Linked DNA regions of Homo sapiens: region 2 is reported to be linked to region 1. Evidence: microRNA targets listed by miRTarBase, many of them from high-throughput screens and not tested one by one. Region 1 holds a microRNA gene; the other region holds the end of a gene's coding sequence.
The links. The annotated mature microRNA hsa-miR-3660 reads ACUGACAGGAGAGCAUUUUGA and lies in region 1 at 3,055-3,075, opposite strand. An mRNA with a match to its seed (bases 2 to 7 or 8) in the 3' UTR can be bound and repressed. Matches are read on the target gene's strand: a 7mer-m8 pairs with bases 2 to 8, a 7mer-A1 pairs with bases 2 to 7 and ends in A, and an 8mer does both.

Region 2: the mRNA of PIGS is a reported target of hsa-miR-3660. Seed matches in the 3' UTR shown: 7mer-m8 at 1,036-1,042 and 7mer-A1 at 1,124-1,130.

The regions. Positions count from the first base shown.
Region 1 is chr5:90,013,587-90,019,984 of GRCh38, forward strand. It overlaps MIR3660 (microRNA 3660), which reads right to left and starts at 3,134; the gene lies at 3,035-3,134. RefSeq lists an enhancer at 1,125-1,174.
Region 2 is chr17:28,551,766-28,554,765 of GRCh38, reverse strand. It overlaps PIGS (phosphatidylinositol glycan anchor biosynthesis class S), which reads left to right. Exons shown (of 12, transcript NM_033198.4): 12 at 271-1,379. The coding sequence ends at 546. UNC119 (unc-119 lipid binding chaperone) reads left to right here and starts at 2,142. Exons shown (of 5, transcript NM_005148.4): 1 at 2,142-2,428. The coding sequence starts at 2,209. RefSeq lists silencers at 1,966-2,415, 2,476-2,525.

The DNA of each region.
Region 1 (6,398 bases):
GCTGGATACTATTCTAAGTACTAGGGCTATCCTATTCAGTAAAACAGAATCCCAGTCTTACAGAGTTTACATTCAGATAGGAAAATACTGATGATAAAAATATATGTACAGTAAATACATGATATTGAGATGAATGGTACCATGAAGATATACCAAAGAAGCATAAGGAAATAGAGAGCTGGACATGGTGGAGGGAAGGAAAATTTCCACTTCACTTAAGGTGAGCACAAAAGGGGTCTATGACAAGAGGTTATATAAAAGAGATGAGGAAATTAAAAATGAGGAAACAAGCCATGTTAATGTATGGCATATGTGAATTCCAGACAGAGAGAAAAAATAAATGAAAGTTCCCGAGGTTGGAGCACCTTTGGCATTTTCAAGGAAAAATAGGGAAGTCTATGTACCTGGAGTGAAATAAAAAACAGGAAAACTAGTAGAAGGTAAAATCAGAGACGTGGTGGGGGTTGAGTTCACAGGGACTTGATGGGATTATAAAGATTTGATGACTGCATTTTGAGTTAAATGAAGCAGGAAAAATTCAGTGAAACTGAAAAGGAGTGCATAGCTTAGGTTAAGTGCTTCCATATAGAAAGAGAAAGTAGACAGCCCTCCCCCTCTTGGCCCTAATGGAATAAGGATCAAGACGAGAGTCAGAGGTGCAGCAAAAGGGGCCAAACTTGAGGCAGGGGCCTACAGAAACTCTAAATATCTATGAGGAAATTTGGGAACATAATAGCAAAGGTCTTCTTTCTCCAAAGCCTGAGAGTCATTGCAAACATCTAGGAATAGTCTTGCAGGAGAGGAAGGAAGGGAAGGAGGTGGGTAGCTCAGTGCTGTTACAGGGAGGTGGCTAGAGACAGGAGCCAGAGGCTGTGATCCCAGTCCCCAAGGCCTATGTGGAGGGGCTTAGAAGTTTTTGCATGCCTCAGTAAGGGTTCAAGGTACTGAGAAGACTGGTGAAATAGCAGAGGCCTGGGGTCAGGACTAAGAAATTGTGGTGAGTTTTTAGTGTACTTGCATGCAAATAACTGGGACCATGAATCTCAGTAGTGGTTGCCTTCATGACAACCAAGGAGGCCAGCTGGGACTAGCAGCACTATCCTCATTGCCACCAATCTACCCAGATGCTATCTGGAGGTGAAAGGAAACCCAAAGAATCTCTTCTTTTTTCAAGAGAAATTGTCTAAAATATGAAGAGACTGGGAGACCATTAATTGTCAAGTTTTCATCCCACCACCCCTCCCTGCACAGTATTCAGTGACATAGAGGTCATGAGAAAGATTAGATTAGTTACTTACAGACTATACCCTTCATTTGCAATTTATAAATTGTGACCGTACCCTATACCTAGAATCTGGAAATTCTATCTCATATATCATTTATCTAAGATCTGTGCCATACATTAAAATGATTTTTCCCAGTTTGTGTGAGTAGTTATATAACCAATAAAATCTACTTTAAAAAGTAAAGACATTTACTATCAGCTTGACTTTATAATAAAACCAAGTTTAATTGTTTGAAAGTTTGATAAGGCATCTGCCCCATAGAAATGTCTTATTAGGCAAAATCTGTAGATGTTGGTCATTTGCTAAAGAGCCCCATTTTCTCCTCTCACCCCAATTTACTGAATGGGTCTGCTAAAAGCATAAGCTTTTTAGTCCCATAAGTAATTTTAAAATGATTATTCTAACTGAACTGCTCCTAAGATTTACTACCTATATTCAAGTGTAAACAAAACACTAGATCTCAGATTCAGTAAGGAACTTTTCCATTTCCTTTCTCTCCATTTAAGCTCAAGGCAGATATTATGATTTTGAAAGTAATATTTATTTGGATAATATCAGAAAACCAACCTAAACAAATTTTTTCTTCTCATGCTATTATTCTGAAACTTCCATGGTTATTTTTGTATACATTTTTCTTTCCCTCTTCCTTACAATCCTTATAACTTTATCCTCACTGGAGTTATTCTGTGTTGGAGCAGATAAACAAAATGAATTCTTACACTGTATTAGCCGAAGGGCAGCAGACATGAGAAGAAAAGAGAAGTGGTGTTCACAGTCGAAGGACGTGCTTTTCAGTAGTGATTCAGACAATTCAGAAAAGCTTACTCATCTCTTTCCTATCTGCTAGTGTGACCACTGTATTCTTCTTTTTCAGATTGCCTTCAGGGTTATCTGCTGTTTGAGTGTCATTACAAAAGTCAGGTCTGCTCAGGATCATGTCAAATAATTTATCCCCATGTCCTCATTTTAACTCCCCATTGCTTCTTCTCAGCCCTGTGCTCTGGGTCCTCACCACACATCAGGTCATAGAAGCTGGGTGCCCCCTCACATTGCTTTCTTTCTTATTATGCATACCAGTGTTATGCAAACCCTACAGGAGTATCTTAGGTTATGCAGTTTTCCCATGACATTTAAAGGAACCCTAAGCCTCTTGTGGGAAGTAAGATAAGGCATCCTTAGAAAGTGTTATCTCTACAGTTTACTACATTGGGATTACTATTCACTCAACTAAATATGATTTCAAAAAGTTAATTGTATTTTCTAGATATCTTAAAAAGAAACCATACATTTTTAAAAACATGCTGCTTTAACTTTGTCTAGAATCTTACTCCCTGCCCCCAAATTTAACAGCTTAGCTTTTCCATTGCTTAAGTAAGTGCCTTGTATTTGAATAATACAGCTTAATCAGATTTTTGAAAGCTTTTATTACATCGTTTTAAAGTGGCATAAATAATGTAAAGTAAGCCTAATTTCACATTAGACACCTTCTATGGCGGCTTATGAAGCTCAAGTTTTTTTAGTTTTTTTTTTTTTTTTTTTTTTTAATTAAGGCGATTCCAGCAGTCATTTCTGACTCTGTGGCATCTTTCTGCAAATCCTGTCCACTTTACTGCTATACCGAGGTTCATTTGTGTCATTCAAATCTTTGCTCTTTAAATATCCACTTATAAATTTATTATGGCAATACATTCATATCTTTACATTTAATCTGAAACTTCGGTAACAAGCAGGAGATGGAATAAATGAGTAGCAGACACACTTGACAAAGTCAAAATGCTCTCCTGTCAGTGCCCATATGAACTATTACAATGACAGAAGAGCATTTTAATTTTGTCCAGTTCTTCTTTCTCCTTTTCACTCTGCATTTCTCCTTCTCCAGCTGGCTACGGAAACTTTGATAAAAGATCCAGACTTTAAATGCCCAATATCCTCAAAAAAATGTCAGAGAATGTTTTAAAATCATAGATTTTGAATGACACAGATGAACTTCACTTGCAGCACTGCTGCAGTGGGGAATTTATCATTTTGTTAATTAAGAAGGGTTTTCCAATAGTCACTCCAGAAATTGCCTCTGGAATATCATTAATTAACAATCTTACTTCCACCATGGGAGGGAGGAATGAGGCCGAGCAGCAAAACTCACAAAAGGACTAACTTAAAATACACACACACACACACACACACACGCATTTGAAAAGCACCAGACAAATCTGGAAAAGAGGAGGGGAATGAATTACTTAACACAAATATTATAGGATCAACAGAGCTAACAAAAAATCCAATTCATAGCATTTAAAGCTATCTTAGTTCACAGGCCTTATGCTAGTCCCGAAATAAAGTCAACAATTTAGAAACTCTATCTGAACTAAATAATTTACCATGTTGTTTGGAATTTAAGGGCTTTCCCCCCAACAATGACTGCTTCCTTTCTAGGGAAGAAGAAAACAAGTCTTTTTTCCCCCCAGTTTTCTTATTTGTTGAGTATCCAGGTAACAAACTACTTAAAATCAACCAAACAAAACTTGATAATTGGCCCTATCCCCATGTGAGCCACAGAAGGATGTAACCATGGCAACCTGTCATTTAGAACAGACCATCTCACGTACCTTTCAGAATTTAAGCATATGAGAACTTATCCATTCCCAAGTAGAATTATCATGCCGGGAACATTTTGTTCTTTATTGCAGAGGAAGTATAAAGCCAGACTCTTAAATTGTTCTCAACAAGGTGTTCAGGAGAAAAGGAGGTTCAGTAGCCACGAAAAGATGGAGATACATACACTAATCTAAAGTTCTTTCTGTTGAGGAGTAAACAAGAATAGACTTGAGGAAAGGGCAATCATTAAAGCCGTGGTGACTGTAGCAGAATAGCTTGGTGAAACCTAAGTTTTCAAAGTAAGAATCTTTTCCAATGAGGAAAACAGCAGCTGACTGACACAAACACAGACCCTCCTTGATTTTAAAGGAGTTTGATCTTCATAGTCACTTTTAGCACACCAGAAAGTATTATTTCCCTCACATTTTTGCTGGTTGTTTTTTTTTTTTTTTTTTTTTTTTTTTTTTGGCAATCAAGACCTACAATAAGACTTTACCTCTCTGGATTTCATAATACAGGAAACTTTTTTTTTTGTTACTTTTTTTTTGTTGTTGTTAGTATTTAGTGACAGGGCTCAAACTGGCTGGGAATGTTCTGATAGACTCTTAATCTTCAGGTGTCTCAAACTGAACATAAAAGAGTTTGAAAAGTATTTCTTATTGAGATGACCAAGTCGCTTTTCTTTAACCATCAAAATGGTAATCATGATTAAAATCTGTGATCAATTTTAATTGTAGCAATGAAATGACAACCAACTTCTCCATTTCCACTAGAAAAATTTTAGAGAGTAAGAACATAAAAAGAGAACCTAGTGTCGGAACATCTCAAATTGTAAGGCTAGCCAGAATGAAGTAAGTTTTGTTAGAGCCAGGTGTATTCTCTTTGTAGTCTCTACATCAAGGGGCTATAATGGGTGTCTGAAGAAAAATCACGGGTTGATTTTATCCTTTATATTTAACATGCTGTCAAATTTATATTTCCACATTACTGCAATATGGGGATCACTGGGAACTGTGACTAACACTTTTGTCTATGTACAATAGTGTGGCATCTATAATAATTCTCTAACTCCTATTCACATCAACAAATGTGTATTGAGAACATACTCTGTGAAAGATACGCTGAAAAGAGTGGTGGGGCATGCCAAGAAGCAGTAGGTGATTTACCTAGAAGCTAATGTAAATTTAGGGCTCTTCCCCTAAATGACTCCCTTGCAAGAACCTAGCAGGGATGCTAGCAGTTTTTAAATTCATAGTTATTATTTTCCATTAAAAACACTTCCACAATTGCATGATCTTTAGGCTCCACAAAATCTAAATGGGCTGCCCTATCATCTCCCACTAAAGTTTAGTGGAAGCATCTGAAAACTTAGCACCATTTTTCTGTTTGAAAGTGTTGCAAGAACCACAATGAGGAGCCAATTGACAATGCTGCTAGAAGTTTGGAGACTTAAGGGAGAGAAAGAACGTGACCTAGGCAGCACTGTAAATATTGTGATGAAACGTAATAATTTAATGAGGTCTGTTTTACCATTTTGGACATCTATATTTAAGATTATTTTTAATATGTGAAAGTTCTTAACATTAATTTAAACCATTTGGAATTTTTTTTGCTACCAAATATATGGAGTCTAAAGTAAAAGAATATAAGTGGAACAATATATAATTTGTCTAATACATAGACAAGTATAATGTATTTGTTGACAAAATACATTAGTATTTTATGTTGGGCAGTATGTACAAATTTTACGTACATCAAACTCATAATGAACCTATGAGATAGGTACCATGATTATTTCTGTTTCACAGAGGAACCTGAGGAATGGAGAGATTAAATAATTTTCTGATAATTATATGACTTGTAATCATTTAAAATCTCATCAGAAAAAAAACTGTTTAGCTATAATAAAAACAAGAACTCTTTCGGGATCTTGATTTGGAATTCTAAATCAGTAACACCTCCCTTGAAAGCAATTTAGCAATATCATTTTTTAACTAAAATTTTCATACCTTTGACCCCAAATTTTATTTCTAGGAGATTAACATAAAGAAATCATCTAAAATTAGACAAAGATGTATATATATAAATGTTCTCTTTAGCATCATGTATAGTAAGAAATAATGAGGAATTAAAATTAAAGATACGTTATTATATCGGAATGGTGAGCAAATATATATGTTAGAGTGAAATACAGCCATTACAAGTTTTGTTTTACATTTTGCCTAATATTATAATATAAAATCATTGAACATATAAAAATGCATATTTTTAAAAAGACTGGAAAAATATGTTAAAACGGTAATAATTGCTTGAGATTATGGCCATACAGGTGGGAAAGTTCTATATGCAGCTGAAGGTATGAAGTTGGAACTGGGTAGTAAGTAAGACGTATCTGAAACTCAATATAATGATGAAATCATGAAAATAATGATGAAAGTCAAAGTAAATCATTCAGGATTAGATGAGATGGTAGTATGCTTTTTTTTTTTCCAACGTTGTGAAGATTCCCTGGACTTT
Region 2 (3,000 bases), not on the chromosome of region 1:
GGTCCATGGTATGTGTGGGCTTGCCATCTTTAGTGTCCCAGCCTTCCTCTAGACGGCAGTACCAGCCCCCAAGCAGGAGTGCAGATGAGAGTGCGAGGTTTCAAGCTGACCCTAGGAAAATAAACCATATCCCTGTAGAAAGACTTCCATAGATCCTGGATGAACTCCAGGCATCTTCCTTGGTAGATGGAAGGCACAGTAAGGCCCAGCACCCTTTCCACCAATGCCTAGGACTTACTGGTATACCCTCTTGTCCCTTCTCCTTCCTAGGTGTACAAGGCTGTAGCTGCCGTCCAGAAGTCGGCAGAAGAGTTGGCGTCTGGGCACCTGGCATCTGCCTTTGTCGCCAGCCAGGAAGCTGTGACATCCTCTGAGCTTGCCTTCTTTGACCCGTCACTCCTCCACCTCCTTTATTTCCCTGATGACCAGAAGTTTGCCATCTACATCCCACTCTTCCTGCCTATGGCTGTGCCCATCCTCCTGTCCCTGGTCAAGATCTTCCTGGAGACCCGCAAGTCCTGGAGAAAGCCTGAGAAGACAGACTGAGCAGGGCAGCACCTCCATAGGAAGCCTTCCTTTCTGGCCAAGGTGGGCGGTGTTAGATTGTGAGGCACGTACATGGGGCCTGCCGGAATGACTTAAATATTTGTCTCCAGTCTCCACTGTTGGCTCTCCAGCAACCAAAGTACAACACTCCAAGATGGGTTCATCTTTTCTTCCTTTCCCATTCACCTGGCTCAATCCTCCTCCACCACCAGGGGCCTCAAAAGGCACATCATCCGGGTCTCCTTATCTTGTTTGATAAGGCTGCTGCCTGTCTCCCTCTGTGGCAAGGACTGTTTGTTCTTTTGCCCCATTTCTCAACATAGCACACTTGTGCACTGAGAGGAGGGAGCATTATGGGAAAGTCCCTGCCTTCCACACCTCTCTCTAGTCCCTGTGGGACAGCCCTAGCCCCTGCTGTCATGAAGGGGCCAGGCATTGGTCACCTGTGGGACCTTCTCCCTCACTCCCCTCCCTCCTAGTTGGCTTTGTCTGTCAGGTGCAGTCTGGCGGGAGTCCAGGAGGCAGCAGCTCAGGACATGGTGCTGTGTGTGTGTGTGTGTGTGTGTGTGTGTGTGTGTGTCAGAGGTTCCAGAAAGTTCCAGATTTGGAATCAAACAGTCCTGAATTCAAATCCTTGTTTTTGCACTTATTGTCTGGAGAGCTTTGGATAAGGTATTGAATCTCTCTGAGCCTCAGTTTTTCATTTGTTCAAATGGCACTGATGATGTCTCCCTTACAAGATGGTTGTGAGGAGTAAATGTGATCAGCATGTAAAGTGTCTGGCGTGTAGTAGGCTCTTAATAAACACTGGCTGAATATGAATTGGAATGATACAAAGTCTGAGCTCTACTCTTTCTGCATTCACGCGTAAGTAACAGTTTCCTGGTGTTTGTCCTCCTGTGCCCACAGGTCCACTTTGCTTCCACGTGGCCATGTGCCCTTCCTAGCTGGATTGCCCAAGGCTGTTAGCATCTGCTTTTTACCTGAGATACTAATTCATCAGGTCAAAAAAAAAAAAAAAAAAAAAAAAAAAGTCTTGAGCACCAGCTGCAGGGAGCCTTCTGCTAGGTACAGGGGTCCTACAGAGAACAAAGTAGGCAGGACCAGTGCTTTCACAGAGCTGAGCTTTCAGGGGGAAGAGTCAGCGGACAAATAAAAATAATTTCACATAATGCATTAGAAAGACAAAAACAGGCTGGTCAGATGGTGACTGAGGGGGAAGGACTTCAGACTGGGTGTGAGGGAGGCCCTTTGAGCAGATGACATTTGAGCTGTGACTAGGAGAAAAGAGGCCATCTGGGGAAGACCATCCAAGCAGAGACCCTGAGCCTGGAACTCACGGGCAGAAAGGCTGGAACACAATGAGTAAGCGGAGAGGTAGTCAGGACCCCACTAGTACCAGTACAAGAAAGTGTTAGAAAAACAGAATGAAGCCCAGGGCAGGATACCCCGACTCCCATCCCCCGCGCCCGTCGCATTTCGGGAGGGTTGGGCCGGGCGGCGGGCGGGATCAGCGCAGGGCCCACCCCAGGGGCGGGGCCGGGGCGGGGCAGTACCTGGGGCCCCGGCCGGGGGCGGGGCTGCGGATGCTCCCACTTCCCCCGGCTCCAGCCGGCGCAGGCAGCGGCGGCAGCAGCAGGCGAGCCTCGGCCCCGCAAGGCCATGAAGGTGAAGAAGGGCGGCGGTGGGGCCGGGACGGCGACGGAGTCCGCTCCGGGGCCCTCGGGCCAGAGCGTGGCCCCCATACCACAGCCGCCTGCGGAATCCGAATCTGGGTCCGAGTCGGAGCCGGACGCAGGCCCAGGGCCCAGGCCGGGGCCGCTGCAGAGGAAGCAGCCGATCGGGCCGGAGGACGTGCTGGGGCTGCAGCGGATCACCGGTGGTGAGCACCCGCGAGGGAGCGCCGCCCGCGGGTGGGAAGGGGAGAGGGTGCGAGGGGCCCTCCCGGCGCGCCAAGCCCTGGCCCCCGCCCCCTTTCCCGCCTCCCCTCCCCCACCGAGTCCCCTCTCCTGTGTCCCCTGCTCTCCCTTCTGCCGCCAGGTCTGAGATCTCTGTGTACCCCCTTCCCTTGATCTCTCTCTGTGCCTCCTTCTTCTCCCTTTCGAGATTTATTCCTTCCTTTTCCAGGGGCCCGTCCCCTTTTCCCAGCGTGGAGGTACGTGCGGCAGCAGCTGCAACCATAGCCCTGTAGCTGTGGAGTCTCCAGAGCGCTTTGAGGCCCGTCCCTGCACTAATGAAGAGAGGGGCTGAGTGCAGCCTGTCCTCAGCCCCCACGCTGGAGGCTAGGTGGAGGCTGAGTTACTTGGGAGGCATTCAGACTCTTCATGTCTCCCCAACCATTAATACCCTCACCCTGATCCTCCAGGAAGACTTGGGCCATTTTCTTCCCCGGGAAAGAAACTGAGCAGGCAGCTTTAGTGTGTTGGCTGTGGTTCCTCTCATGGGGAGTGGCAT